Linked DNA regions of Homo sapiens: region 2 is reported to be linked to region 1. Evidence: microRNA targets listed by miRTarBase, many of them from high-throughput screens and not tested one by one. Region 1 holds a microRNA gene; the other region holds the end of a gene's coding sequence.
Evidence for each region. The annotated mature microRNA hsa-miR-3158-5p reads CCUGCAGAGAGGAAGCCCUUC and lies in region 1 at 4,024-4,044, opposite strand. An mRNA with a match to its seed (bases 2 to 7 or 8) in the 3' UTR can be bound and repressed. Matches are read on the target gene's strand: a 7mer-m8 pairs with bases 2 to 8, a 7mer-A1 pairs with bases 2 to 7 and ends in A, and an 8mer does both.

Region 1 (7,121 bases):
CCACATTGGAAGTGGGCCAGGGTTTGGAGCTTTGGGGAAAGAGGCCTTTAGGACTTCTACTTTCCAGCCCACCTGAAAGATGGGGCCTCCTTTCAGCAGTCTGGGACATCAGCCTGCTTCCTGCTGATTTAGGAAAAAGCCCCCAGGCGCCACCTCCTTTATATATTCCCCATCAGACTCTTCACCGGGGTGGAAAGTCTCTTTTCCAAGGTCTGGCTGGGGCTCAGCTGGGAAGATATGACAGCGTCCCGGGAAGCTGCCTCACACCAGTTTGGGTTTAACATATAATCAAATCAGAGTGACAGCAGATGGAAACAGTCTTCTGTTGCCGCAGGAGCCGTCCTTGAGTTCAGAAACAAAGACGGGGGCAAGAAAGACAAGACAAAGTGTGCATTTGTACATGTGTGTTCACACCCATGCACTTGTGCATAGGAAAAATAAGAAGGACTTCCCCAAAATCTTTTATTGGGTCTTATCTCTAGAGGGAATGGGAAAGGAGACTTTCTTCTACATTCTAACAAAGAATTTAATTCTCAAGGTGTTTAAACAAAAAATAAAGGTGAAGCAGCCAGAGGTGTCAAGTTCCCTGAGTGGTTTTTAAGGTCAGAAGTAAGGAAATCAGCAGCTGACTTTCTTCCTTCTTTGAGTACTTCTTGGGAAGTTTTCTGTGTAAAACTCAAAATTTTTTGGAGTAAAAGTGCACAGAAAACCCTGGGGTGGTTGTCGTCCCTCCAGGCCACCTTGGTGCATTATTATGCATTAGGACACCCATTTTAGCAAGGCCCATGACTTACAGGGGCACCTCACTTATCCAGCCCTAGGTCGTGAGGTAGTCCTCATAATTTACTTTTTCAGATAATCAAAGCTTACCCTTTAAAGGCCAAATATAAAAAATAAATTGAGCTACTTAAAAAAAAACAGAAACCTTTCAAAATATTACATGTGCTTATTGAACACTTTCAGAATAAAGTTTTATTAATAATTCAAATTCTGGATTTGGAGTTAGGAGACCTGGAGTTTAGCCGTGGCATTTGTAAGATTGTCTCCTTGAGCCTCAGTAATTCTTCATAGTCTGTTTCCTAGAGAGTAGTGGCAAGGGTTGAAAGAGAGCAGTCAGGGAAAAAATGCTATTTCTCATTTTAAAAATACAGACATTGGGTAGATGCTTTCTTTTTTTTTTTTTTTTTTTTTTTTTTTTTTGAGACGGAGTTTCACTCTTGTTGCCCAGGCTGGAGTGCAATGGCACAATCTCAGCTCACCACAGCCTCCACCTCCCAGGTTCAAGCGATTCTCCTGCCTCAGCCTCCCCAGTAGCTGGGACTACAGGCGTGTGCCACCACACCCAGCTAATGTTTTATTTTTAGTAGAGACGGGGTTTCTCCATGTTGGCCAGGCTGGTCTCGAACTCCCTCAGGTGATCCGCCCGCCTTGGCCTCCCAAAGTGCTGGGATTACAGGCATGAGCCACCACGCCCGGCCTGGAGTAGATGCTTTCTAAAGGAACTTCCACCTTTAAAATCTGTGATGGTTGTGTTCTATTATAAAGTGGCACCATTGGAGTCTAAGGGTGCTTGTTTGCCCTTACACTAAATGGTCCCAAGTGTTTATGTGGTTCTGACACTGCCGTCCAGTGTGAGTTGTCCCCGATACCATTGTCAATATGCCTGAGAAAAAAAGTAATTTCCTGCCTTATTCTACACACAGCATTTTATACCTAGTCTGAGCGAGAATCTGAGAGTGATCTTTCCTATAGTATAGAGTAGGGTACATGGATCTTTTCACAATAAGCTGCTGCTCGGAGGCATTTGTCACTTCTGAGTTTGCAACTGTGTCAGAGGCCCCCAGAAGGCTGCTTCCAGTGAAGTGAGGTATTAACACTGAATAGATTTGGATATACTCCTGGTCACAGTCCGTTCACTTAAGAGAGAAGTATTTGTGGGGGAAAAAAGTTGCCTATAAAGCATATTTCCAAGTTTTACTCTTCCTTATTAATTTTCATTATAAACTTGGAAATGTGTTTCTAGGGAGAATTTTTGGCCCTAAGAGGTAATAAAATCACACTGCAGAATGCAGCAGACCTTATAAAAGCACATATTTAAGGGAAAATTCTAATTTTACAGCACACTTTTGTGTTCAGCTTGTGTGCCTTACTTATACCGGTGAGGGCGTTTGGATTTGACACAGCTGCTCAAAAGGTCTAAAGTAAAACCGCCGGCTGCCTAGTGCTGAGAACCTGACTGTAGCTCTCAACTCCTACCTGGAAAAAGACACAAACAGAAACAACTGTAACTGAGTACTGTGCACTTTTTGAGTTGTTTAGCTCCTTAAACAGCTACAGAGGCTGCTGGTCTTTAGCACCAGCTGGGCTCCTCAGGCTGGAGGATACCATAGTGGGCAGCCCCGGATTCCAAATGCAGCAGGAAGGGAAAGGAACTGGGGGATAGGAGGTCATGGCTCAGAAAAGATCCCCCTGCAGTGATGGACCGCATGGTTCCTGAAAATGAAAATCTCAGCAGGGGTTTTCAGGTAGTCCATTCAACTAGTTTCTTGATTTATAATTTTCATAATATATGTGCCTTAAAATCTTATGCAAGCATCTGGGTTATGAAACAAGGTAAAATAGAGATGGTTATTTGCATTCTAGAAGGATTCCCTTTTACAAAAAATTCACATTAGATCTTTTATAAACCGTGCATTTAAAATATGGCATGTGCCTACGATTTTGTTTAAATGCAGCTTTGGAGCGTTTTTTTGTTTTTGCTTTTTTCTTTTTTTTTAAGCAAGGTATACCTGAAAAGAGTGAATTTCTATATTTGGACTTTCTGAATCATGATACAGACCTGCCGAACAGCTTTCACCCTCTTAATTATTTTTTCCTCTGCATGTTTTTGAGGGAAAAAGTGTGCTTCAACTCCTTTTTGGGATCCAAATTTTCTCCATTACCAGAAACAACCCTTTTCCTAATCTTCACATCTTCTCCTTGCTTGAAGCCACACCTGAGGGTTTCTTGACTCCACTTGGCTCTTCTCAGAGCTTCATTCCAGTTCCTTTTGCCTGAGCACCCATGAGATGCGCTTTGAGGGTTGTCTAATGTTGAAATGCTCTACTGAAATTTCAGAAGTTGTGAGGTCCCTCCTTAGATTAACAAAGCTGAGAGTAAAGGCCCAACACTCCCACTTTCATCTTGTGCTAGTTACCTAGTGTGGTGCCGGTGATTCAGCAGAAAAGAGCAGAGACCCTCTCTTCACTCTCATCCTGATGCTTGCTTCTCATCCCGATGCTTGCTTCTCTCCCCAGTGAGAAAGTGGCGTGTGAAAAGTGCCCTGGGAGCCATGGGCCAGTGGCAGCTTGAAGTAGGAGACCCAGCGCCCCTAGGAGCAGGGAACCTGGGGCCTGAACTCATCAAGGAAAGCAATGCCAATGTACGTCCATCTGTCCAGGTGTCTTGCACGGACTGAGGTGGGGGTGGGCTGTGGGCTGCTGGCTCTTGAGGGCAGGGACCATGTCTTGTTCACCTCCTCGCCTCCAGTGTGCCACCTGGACACAGCACTCTATAAATGTTTGTTTGAATGAATACAGACATTTTGGCTTGATCGTCCCAGGGCGGGGGCTCAGGGCCTGGAGTGCTGTAGCAATAGCAGCGTCAGAGGGGAGCAGTGGAGAAGAGCTGAGGGTCTTGTTGTGCCCCGGGGTAGCGCTCTGATGAGGGTGGAGCCTTCCCTTCCCCAGGAACAGTCCTCGAGTTGGATTTGCCTTCTGCAGCCTATCTTCATGCGCAAGGACACCAAGATGAGTTTCCAGTGGCGGATTCGAAACCTCCCCTATCCTAAGGATGTCTATAGTGTCTCTGTGGACCAGAAGGAGCGCTGCATCATTGTCAGAACAACCAACAAGAAGTGAGTAGCGTGGAAGGCACCCTGTGTGCTTGTGTATGAGCGGGGTGTAGGGTGGGGTTTGATCTGGCGTTAGGATCATTATTCAGGCCGGTCCTGCAGAGAGGAAGCCCTTCTGCTTACAGGTATTGGAAGGGCTTCCTCTCTGCAGGACCGGCCTGAATAATGTAATCAGCTCCATCGGGGAAGAGAAACTTGAATGAGTATCTAGTATAGTACCTGGCATAGATAGGGGCTCAGTAAATATTTGTTGAATGAATGAGATGATGAGGGAAATCACAGGACCATTAACTTGTGGTCTCAGGTGGTTCTGCTGAAAGGTTATTATGACCTTGGTCTCCTGACTGGAGCCAGGCCTTGGTAAGGGTGGCCTGGTGACATCACTGTCAGAGCTGGCAGGGAGCCATAGCTTGGAAGGCACCCCTGTCTGAAGTGGGAGTGACAGTCCTTTAAAGCAGTACTTGACAGCAGTTTAAAGCAGACTGGGCAGCAGTAAACCTAATCCCTCCCCAGACTGACAGTGGGGCAGATGCTTGGGCCGCTTGGAAGTCTCTTGCATAATGCTTCAAAAGGGGTACTCAACTTCCCTTTGTGGTCCCCTAGAGGGGAGGCAAACTGCAGGGGTTGAAAGGACAGAAGGTGGCCACAGTGCATTTCCATTTTGGAAATGCATTGATCTCATTTAGGTTTCTGGAGCCCTGACTGATCACAGGAGAACAATGCCCTGTGTGAGGCCTGAAGGGAATGACCCTGAAATGAATCAATCTTGACCTGGGCTAGAGAGAATACAGTCTAGGGACAACTCCCACAAAATAGATTTGGGCATTGAGATGGGAGGTTTTATAAGTTACCTGTCTGCAAGCTGTGAAGCCATTCAACATGCCTCATGGGGATGCCCCCACCCATCTCTTGCTTTACATGCAGTAATGGGGACACAGCTCCTTGTGCATCTCCTCAGGTGATGTGGTGCCAGTCTCCCCTTCCATCTCCCTCAGGCTCACGAGGCCCACAGGGAAGCAGGGTAGCTCCCAGACTCCCCCATCGCAGCCCTGGGTGCTGCCATCCTCTTGTGACCCCCATATCCCATTGCTTTGGCAGGGTTAAGAGGACAGGGGAAAGGGTGGAGATGGATGAATTAATTTCAGGATTATTGCTGTACATGCAGCCAGCAGCCCCTGCAGTGGGCCTTGTCTATAAATATAAAGTCATAATAATAAGGGTTTGTGTTTATAAAGCACTTTGAAGCCCTCAGATAAGAGGCAGTTTATTCCCGTTATTGTTCTCATCATTAACAGGAGTCACTGCCTAAAGTGGAATTTAGCAATTTCAGACAACAGAGAAATTGCCTGTAGGAGAACAAACTCCATGCTTCAGCAAGCATTCCTTGGTGGAAGAGGCCTTGGGTCCAAACTGGGAACAAAAGTGCTTCTGATAGCACTTGAATCTGCAGCCCAGCACTTTGTGAAGCTGGCTGCTGCCTCTTTTTTGTCCCCCAGAGGTCACTGTCGAATACAGATATCAGACAGAAATGTGATTACCAGGGAGTGAGGAAAGAGGCTAGCTAGCTCACCAAAAAATTCATCTGCCAGCATATCCTCTGGGTCCCATCTCCTGCGCACATCCAGCCATAGGTGGCGCTGTTGGCCAGGAGCTCCATGGCTGGAGGCCCAGGCTAGCTCTCAAGGCAAGCAGGGGTTGTTGGACATTTTTGAAATGATGGGTGAGGCCAGGTGGGATGGGAGTGATGCCCCTGGAGGGGCAGGGCTGAGGGTTGGATTCCCATAGAGGACAGAGGAGTGTTTCAGGGCCCACTTTGGAACCCACACTGAGCCTCTGGTCCAGTGTCCCAGCCTGGCTCATCCCTGCCCTCCTCAGGTCTCTCTGTTGGGAGGTAACCTAGAGGCCGCTGAACCCTTAGCCAGATCGTTCCCGAACCTAGTGGCATTTTTACCTTCTACCTGGAAGAATGTATTTTATACCTTTACTCCCATTAATTATATAGAACTCAATGGGTATTCCTTTATTATTATTATTAATTTGGAAGGGAGAGATTTATTTCTCATCAGGGGTTACAGCCTGCATAGACATTCTTTTTTATTTTTATTTTTATTTATTTATTTTTTTTTTAAGAGATGGAGTCTTGGCTGGGCGCGGTGGCTCACGCCTGTAATCCCAGCACTCTGGGAAGCCAAGGCAGGTGGATCATCTGAGGTCAGGAGTTTGAGACCAGCCTGGCCAACATGGCGAAACCCTGTCTCTCTAAAAATACAAAAATTAGCCAGGCGTGGTGGTGCATGCCTGTAGTCCCAGCTACTCGGGAGGCTGAGGAAGGAGAATCGCTTGAACCCAGGAGGTAGAGGTTGCAGTGAGCCAAGATCATGCCATTGCACTCCAGCCTGGGTGACAGAGTGAGACTCCATCTCAAAAAAAAAAAAAGAGATGGAGTCTTGCCCTATTGCCCAGGCTAGAGTCCACTTCTTGCAATCATAGCTCACTGTAGCTTTGAACTCCTGGGCTCAAGGGATCCTCCCGCCTCATCCTCCTGAGAAGCTGGGACTATAGGCGCATACCACCCAATCTGGCCAAGTTTAAACAATTTTTTATAGCGTTGAGGGTCTCTCCATTTTGCCCAAGCTGCTCTCAAAATCCTGGGCTCAAGTGATCCTCCTGCCTTGGCCTCCTGAAGTGCTGAGATTACAAGCATGAGCCACCACACCCAGACCAGGGTGGCCATTCTGGCAGGTGGGGAAGTGTGGCCTCTGGCCAGAAGCCAAAAACTCAATGGCTACTCCCTTCCACAGTGTTTAGCTTTTTAAGGATATAGTACATTTAAAATCTGTTTTCTGATCATCATTCTGTCAGGAGGTGGACAGGATCCATACTTTTATTCTTGTGTTATAGATGATTATATAAATGTATATATAAAGTCAGCATGATGAACCAGCTTGCTGAAAGTTAGTGACTGTCTCTCCTGATACTCAGACATCTGCACTTCAGAAATGCACATCATGGCATTTCTCTCTGATTTGACCTCTTCCTTCACCTGGAGGTTCCATAACCTGCCCCAGTTCTAATATTCTGGAATGTGGTTACTAACCAAAGCCAGAGTTTCTTTACCCATACTTGCCTTGTCTCTGAAGAGCTGGGTTGGTGACTTTACTTGAAGGAATTGATTGCAGTGTATCATGTCCTTGGCCTCACATATTAGTGAGGGATGAATCAGGGAAGG
Region 2 (7,121 bases), not on the chromosome of region 1:
GGACAACGTGCCTCAGAAACCCCGGTCCCCTTCCCAGGAAAGGAACAATGACTCAGGCAGGTAGTGACAAGCCACCTGCCACTTGGGAAACAGCTAGACTGAGGCTGAGAGGTTGAGTGGTGCTGGGTGAGATTACTGGGGTTGGTGGAGGGGGGAGGTCGGGGGACCCAAGTGCCGGCGACTGCACTGAGACTTCTCCTGGGAGGGGTTTAAAAGCAGCTGCCTTATTGAGATCAATGGAATGACTGCTCACGTGACCCATGTACCTCTTAAGTCCCCTTCAGGCTGGAAAGTGCTCTACACCCCCAATGCTCTGAGTCTAAAAACTCTAAACCTGTGTTGAAACGCTGGTGTTTCGTGGTTAATATACAGCATCCTCTCTCAGTTACTCTATCCTATGACGGGGCACTGTTTCGCAGCCTGGGTGGAGTTGAGTCACAAGGTGGCAGAGTCAGAACCTACTAGTCTAGGGATGTCAGTTTACAGCTCAGTACCCAAGGTCCATGAAAGCCCAGTGAGGAGCCTGAAGTTGCACAGCTAAAGGAAGGGCTGGGACTCGAACTCATGGCTCTGTGGTTCAGTCCTTTGGCTAAAGGGTCCATGAACGCCACCCACAAAGAATGTATTGAATGTTTTGCTTCTGGGCTCTGGAGGCATCCAGGGTAGCTGGGGGGTTCCCTGCCAGTGAGGAGGGAGCAGGCACTGGCACACCATTCCTCAGTAGCCCGACCTCATTCAATCTGGCAGGTAGGTATGAAGCCGGGTCAACCGGCGCGAATGCATCAGCATGTAGGGAAGGAGAAAAAGGAGTTTAGGGGAATAAGGAGAAAACAGTGGAAAAGAGCTGGAATGAGAACACGCGAACAAAGCAACACTATTTCCTTTGTCTTAAGGTCCTGCTAACAAAACCGTCTCCATTAGACTGAGCGGCATCGCCATCTGGTGGTAACTAAAGGCAAACGCTTTAGAAAGGAATCGAAACGGTCTAATCCAGCGATTAGCATTTTACCATGCAAAACCCACCGTTCCTCATCTCCCAGGAGGCTTAGCACTTGGCAGAGGACCACCTGTTTAGGCAGATCAGTCCCAGCAGGAAGCTGCACTGTCCTTGAACTCCAGGCCACGGAGTATCCTCACTCAGCGTGAGTTGACAGGGCTTAGAAGGTTTAGGCATGGGGGTAGATAGGGACCTTCGGGCTTTCCACGGCTCTAGTGGAGGAGCCTCACAGCCCCGTTCATAGCCAGCAGTTGTGCATCTGAGTTCCAGGTTCAAGGACAGGCCTCTGGGCAGAGCCTCTTGGTTATTACTGCCTAAGGGTGCCACTCCCTTCCCAAACTAATTTAGTCATCTGCATTCTAAGAGCTGCTCAGCCAAAAGAAGCCAGCGTCTGCTGCTCAAAGGAGCCAGAACAGAGAGGGTATTTTAGAAAACCAGCTGAGAGTAATCATGAGGGCTATTATCTTATTGATCAAGGTCCAGCCATTTGCCAAGGTATATACACGTTTATTTAAAAAAGTTTACAGTTTTCATTATACACAACTATTAAGAGGTTATAGTCAGAGGAGGCATGTGTCCTGTTGACAGACGTGCCTACTAGATCATCACAATGCAAGGAGAAAGGTGGAAGGGAGGAGACAGGGCGAGGAAAAATAAGCGATAAAAAGCTTCAGATTTCAGTTAGGGGCTGGCAGTCCCTTTTATCTTTTCAAGTATCACACAATATGTACCAAATACAATCTGTAAATAATGGCCATTTCTTCCCAAGCCCACAGCCAAGATGAGTGTTAGGCTAAATTCAGAGCCCTGGCTCTTCCTCAGATGAGTGGAAAACCTGCGCATGACAGGGCCGGCTCCCCCTTCTCAAAGGGCTTCCTCCCACTCATCCCATCCCTAACAGAATCGCCGAGGTGTTCACGGGCCAGAGAAAGCACAAACATGGATTCAGAAGTCCAAAGAAATGCAGTTCGTTGCGCCCAATCAGAGATAGATGATTTCATTCAACAAGGCTGGAAGCCCAGTTGGGAAGTCGATAAAAAATCTTGCTAACTTTTTTAAATGGCTTTTACTTTTCTAAGTCACTGAAACAAGGAAGGGCCACATGCCATTTAAAATCAAACACTAGTTCCCAGAGACTTGGTGTCCAGAAACTTGACCCACAGAGGCTAGCGGAGGATCTGTCTTTCATGATTCTCAGCCATCCCAACGGGAGGCCTAACATAAAGCATGTGCCAGGCCAATGCCAACTAGGACTTCAGGGGGCCTTTGGAGGGAAAAATTCCTTTGAGAGGAGACATTCCTCAGGAGCTTAGATCAGCCAGCTGGCAGTCAGAACAGCTTTTGAAGTGGATGAGAAATGTTAGGTACTGGAGAGATGATATGGCAACTCCTGATAATGACCTCACTAGGATAAAATGCTGGTTGAAACTGCACAGTAACCTCAAGGAGGGTGATGAAATTGACGACAAAGCCAAATGTCAGTGTCTAAGATGGCTACCACTGACCCTGTGCCCAAAAGCCCCCCGGTGCTGGGGCTTCCAGAGGGAGCCCAAGGGTGGTGGATTCAATGTTGCCAGGTTGCAACCATCTTGCTTGTTGGTGTTTGGCAAGAGCTTGAGCTCAGTTATGTGAACAGGGGCAAAGAATGGCTTGTGCTGGTAAAACTCAAGGGAGGATCCAAAAACTATGGGCACTAAAAAGGGGAGGGAAACCGCCAGAAGTGGCTCTGACCTGCTGCCGCTGCCACCACCTCTAAAGCCAAGAATGTAGAGCCTCTGCCCAGGGATCTGGATGCTCTCCTGAGTGTTGGAAGGGCAGCCTGGAAAGGCATTTGGTGGTGAAACACCGCTGCTCCAGACTTACGCTACCATCTATTGTTGGGGGCCCAGAGTCCTTGGATTCACTGCCAGGCCTTCTTCCAGATCTTTCTGTACCTGTGTGTTTGGGCTCCTACTCCCACCTCTCCCAGGCGCAGGGAGAGGACAAAAAGCATAAGGGACTCTGTTCAACCCAGCAAAAGTCAGTTTCCCAGTGGAGAGGCAAAGCCCCACCCAGAACATAAACATGCATGGGACCAAGGTTAGTGCCCAGACAGGACAGACTTGCACAGAACAAGAGGGCACAGTGGGATCCATGCGGCAATTACAGGAGCTTCCAGCACTAACAGAGGAGCCTTATCCCACCTTCATCACACACACTTAGATGGACACACACACACTCTCGCTCACACTCTCACACATGTGCACACATACACACACTCTCTCTCTCTGCAGCCACACTCAAATCTGCTAAACTCCTACAACCTCCCCCAGCAGGTCATTTGACAATTCTGCATCTTCCGCTCTCTGGTGCTGGGGCTCTGGTCAGAGGCGAGCCAATGTCTTATCATTAGAGAGATGTGGGATTAGGTAAGGGGCAGAGTCATGGCACTGCTCACACACCTTCCCGAAACTGGGGTCTATTCAGTTTTTTGACAAGATCAAAAGCAATTCTTAACTGGTCATTATTTTTTTTTAAGGTAATTAGAACACTATTGTTTATACAATATTGAAAAAATACAATTTTTTATTGTTTGAACTCAAATCACCACCCAGCACTTTAAGCCTACCCTAAATAGCACCTACAATAAATGTCATAGCACAAGCAAACTGCAAAGTCAGCAGGTAAGCAAGTTAGACAGTGCCAGCAGAGAGACCCTCCCTCCCCCAAAGCAATGAGAAGACAGCGTGCTAGGTAAGAGTGAAGTACACCATTACATGTTAAATAGTTAATACTACCCTTCCAGCAAGCCACAGATGCTAGATGGATAACTCAGTACGGTTAACTAACCACAGCCCTACATCACTGCACTTTTTTTTTTTTTTAAAGAAAACCTTTTGCTTCATGCCCGTAATTAACATAAAGTAAGTAAATTCTTTGTCTTTTTATTTAGGAAAATAATCATGCTAAAAGCAAGTTGTACTTTATATAGATTTTCAAACAAAAGATTGATTGTGCTTTTTGAATAAAAAAGATAGGGTATCTTCCAACCTCACTGACTTAAACCTTGTGGAATACAGCACTTCTAAACTAAAAACACACGTCAAAAAGAAAAATTAAATAATCCCAGTGGGATGCTCAAAAATCGTCTTTAGAAGGTTTTAGGATTGGCTAATTCTGCTATTATCTTATTGGCTGCGGCAAAAAAAGAACACAGAGCTGCTGTCTAAAATTTCTCCAAACTCCCCTCCGAGTTCAGCAGGCAACACTCAGATTTGAAAGAAACTCTGCAGCAACCTGGACATATGGTTAGCTGAGTCGACATTTGATTAGCAGGCATTTTAAACTGATTTCCTCTTAACATACGCAGGAGAGAAAACATTTTCTTCCTGCAGGGCATGTTCTACTACATCATATTTCTGAATCCCTTCTTCCTATTCGGTCACTCTCTGAAAAAAGCTGGTTTGTTTTTCCCATGTAGAATCACTCTGGGTACAAGAACCTTTATTTGTTCCAATTATTATTTGTTTTAAATTTAGAACCTGTGTTGGGTCTAAAATACCCATTTCCCACTCCCACAAGCAGATGATGACCAGGCTGCTGCCAAGAGCAGCAGAAAAAGGGAAAACCAAACCAGAACATGAAGGCAAGTACCCAGGGCTTTGCAGTCACCACGTGGGTCGTCTTCTCAAGTCTAATGGTCCATGAGCGGCTTGTCCAAGGAGGCGGCCGCCTCTTGGTAGGTGAAGATGAAATCTGCAACCTTTCTAAGCACAATACACACACACACACACCAAAAAAATAACCCCCCCAGAAACACAACCCTCATATTTAAAGCTCTTAAGTTCAGGGTAGCGGTCTCAAACTGCCAAACACTAGGATGAGGATGTGACTCTGCATGTGTTTTGGATGAGAGGAAGCATCGTCCCAGTCACTTTTCTCCTCCTGTGCTGTCCTTTCAAAAACAGGTCTGGATTTCACGCTCTACCCCAAGAAAAAGAACTGGTTCAGAAAACACTTCCCCAAGTTTCTCCAACAGAACACTGTGGCTGCAGGGCCTGGTAGTGTGAAGGGCAGCAACTGACATATAAAAATGTACTTAAAATCAGAGTCAAAAAATGGTTTTAAGTTTTAATACTCTTAATTAGCTCCCTGCTTTATACTGTAACTCCACAGAAGACATAGGGCCACCTAGGATTCACAGGAAGGAGCAGCTCTGATTCTTACATGGCTGGCTCCGATGCCCCCACAGCAGGCCTCTTCCTCCCCAAGTTTTTCCTCTCCATTTCAAAAAAGCACTATTTTATCTTCACATCCAAGAGCTGGTTGGTTTGGTTTGTTTCTTTGGAAACCAATAAAAGAAGCAATTTTTTCCTGTTCTTTTTACTCACATCTACCTATCAGAGCGGCTATTTCCTTCGACAGTTCAGTAGCACACAGGCTGACTTGGCCACATGGACTCATGAATGCATGCATTCAGACCGCATATTGCTACCAAATGGAATGTGGGAATATGCTATGCACCTCAGGTTGAGAAATGACCAAGAAATCAAGATCTAAAGGGTGATATATAATATATATATATCAATGCTATTATTCATAAAAACCTTGTTTAGTAATAAAAAAAATTGCTTTGTTTAAATATGAATATTATAGTCTGCTTCTCATGGTTAGGAAATAATAGTCTTTCTGAAAAGCAGGTGCTTTTTCTACTACAACTCCATATCCTGGGCCTCATCTTCGGAAAAGTCAGACATAGAGCTCTCCGATGAGCTGTCCCCGGTACCCTCTTCCTGTTCTTTCAGCGCCTCCTCCGTGGCGTATTTCTGGATGTACTCTGCACGGGGTGGGAGAAAGACAACAAGGGCAGTGAGTGGGCAGGCATGTGCTTTGGCGACCCCAAAAAGCTGGCAAGGCTGCGGAGGTTCAAACTTACCTTGAACACCAGGGGGGACAAAGATGACAGTAATCATGATCACTACAGCTAAGGAGAATCCCATAGGGAGACTTCTTTGGGACAGGGTTTCTGCATTTTGCCCCCTGAGGAAAGGGGTATTGGGAAGAGCAACACAGCAGGCTCAGCTTGCAGGGGAATGTGTGTGCTGCAGCACCCCAAGAACTCTTCAGGGACCAGGGAAATGGGAGCCCCACGCTTTCTTTTTACTTTCATCTCCCAGATAGTATAGGACCAGTCATGATTCCATAGTAATTTATAAGGAAATCCTTCATCATTTTTAGATCTGCAGTTACATAATTACGGTCAGTCCAGGTCTATTATTTTAGGAATCGATTTTAGTCTAAACAGATCCTGCCTGTCAGGTTTTTGAAGCAGCTGGCAAAAACCATCGCTCAATCTGCTCAGGACTAAGCTGCTATACGGAGACACCACTCGGCTCTGAGTGGTTTTTCCATGTATAATTTACCTGAAGGTAGATTTCCGCTGCTACAGCCTTGGTGGAACCCTAGGCTGAATAAGACTGCTGAAACGGCTTTTAAGAACTGCTGAATAAACAAACTTGTTCCTAAAAACTCTAAGTGCATACTGTTTTCAAGTGAACAGCCTCCACACAATAGGAAAAGACATGACAGAAACCTATTCAAAATGCAAGCCACACAAAAACACACCCTTGTGGCTTTGTTTTTCCTCCTATAGAGTTGCGGGGACTCACTGCAATAGGAAGATAAGCTGAATGGCCAAATGGGCCTACCAGATTTGAATAACTAGCACAGGGCCTAGCTAAGAATGTTTTTATATTTTAAAAACTGTCTTAAAAAATAATAAACAGAATGTGTGATAAAGGCCACATCTGGCCAATGTGGTCCTTTACAGAAAAGGTTTGCAGACTTGAGACTTAGAGCCCTTCAAATTCATTATAACAAAATTTTATGCTAATGATTTTGATGAGATTAAAGTAGCCCATGATTAGGTAGGAATTTACCTTAATTGAGAAATATTTATTCAAACTTTAACAATTTTATTTTTAACCTCTAATGGGTTGACTATTTTGCGTCTTCCTTTGTAGAAGATAAATATTGACCTTTTTTTGACACTAGAATTTGATACTATCAGCCCTCTTTAATGTATTCAAGGAAACAAATGTATATTAAGTACTTACTAGGACAAGGCCTTTGAGAGAGAGAAAGG

Region 2: miRTarBase lists UBE2H as a target of hsa-miR-3158-5p. Seed matches in the 3' UTR shown: 7mer-A1 at 4,263-4,269 and 7mer-A1 at 3,264-3,270.

Annotation. Positions count from the first base shown.
Region 1 is chr10:101,597,442-101,604,562 of GRCh38, forward strand. MIR3158-2 (microRNA 3158-2) reads right to left here and starts at 4,056; the gene lies at 3,976-4,056. It overlaps DPCD (deleted in primary ciliary dyskinesia homolog (mouse)), which reads left to right. Exons shown (of 6, transcript NM_015448.3): 3 at 3,297-3,421; 4 at 3,762-3,895. It overlaps MIR3158-1 (microRNA 3158-1), which reads left to right and starts at 3,976; the gene lies at 3,976-4,056. RefSeq lists an enhancer at 1-125 and a silencer at 5,445-5,604.
Region 2 is chr7:129,829,249-129,836,369 of GRCh38, forward strand. UBE2H (ubiquitin conjugating enzyme E2 H) reads right to left here. Exons shown (of 7, transcript NM_003344.4): 7 at 1,484-5,813. The coding sequence ends at 5,689. Among named protein-coding and RNA genes, the nearest start is that of MIR183, 58 kb to the left of the region's middle. RefSeq lists enhancers at 5,413-6,072, 6,807-7,121.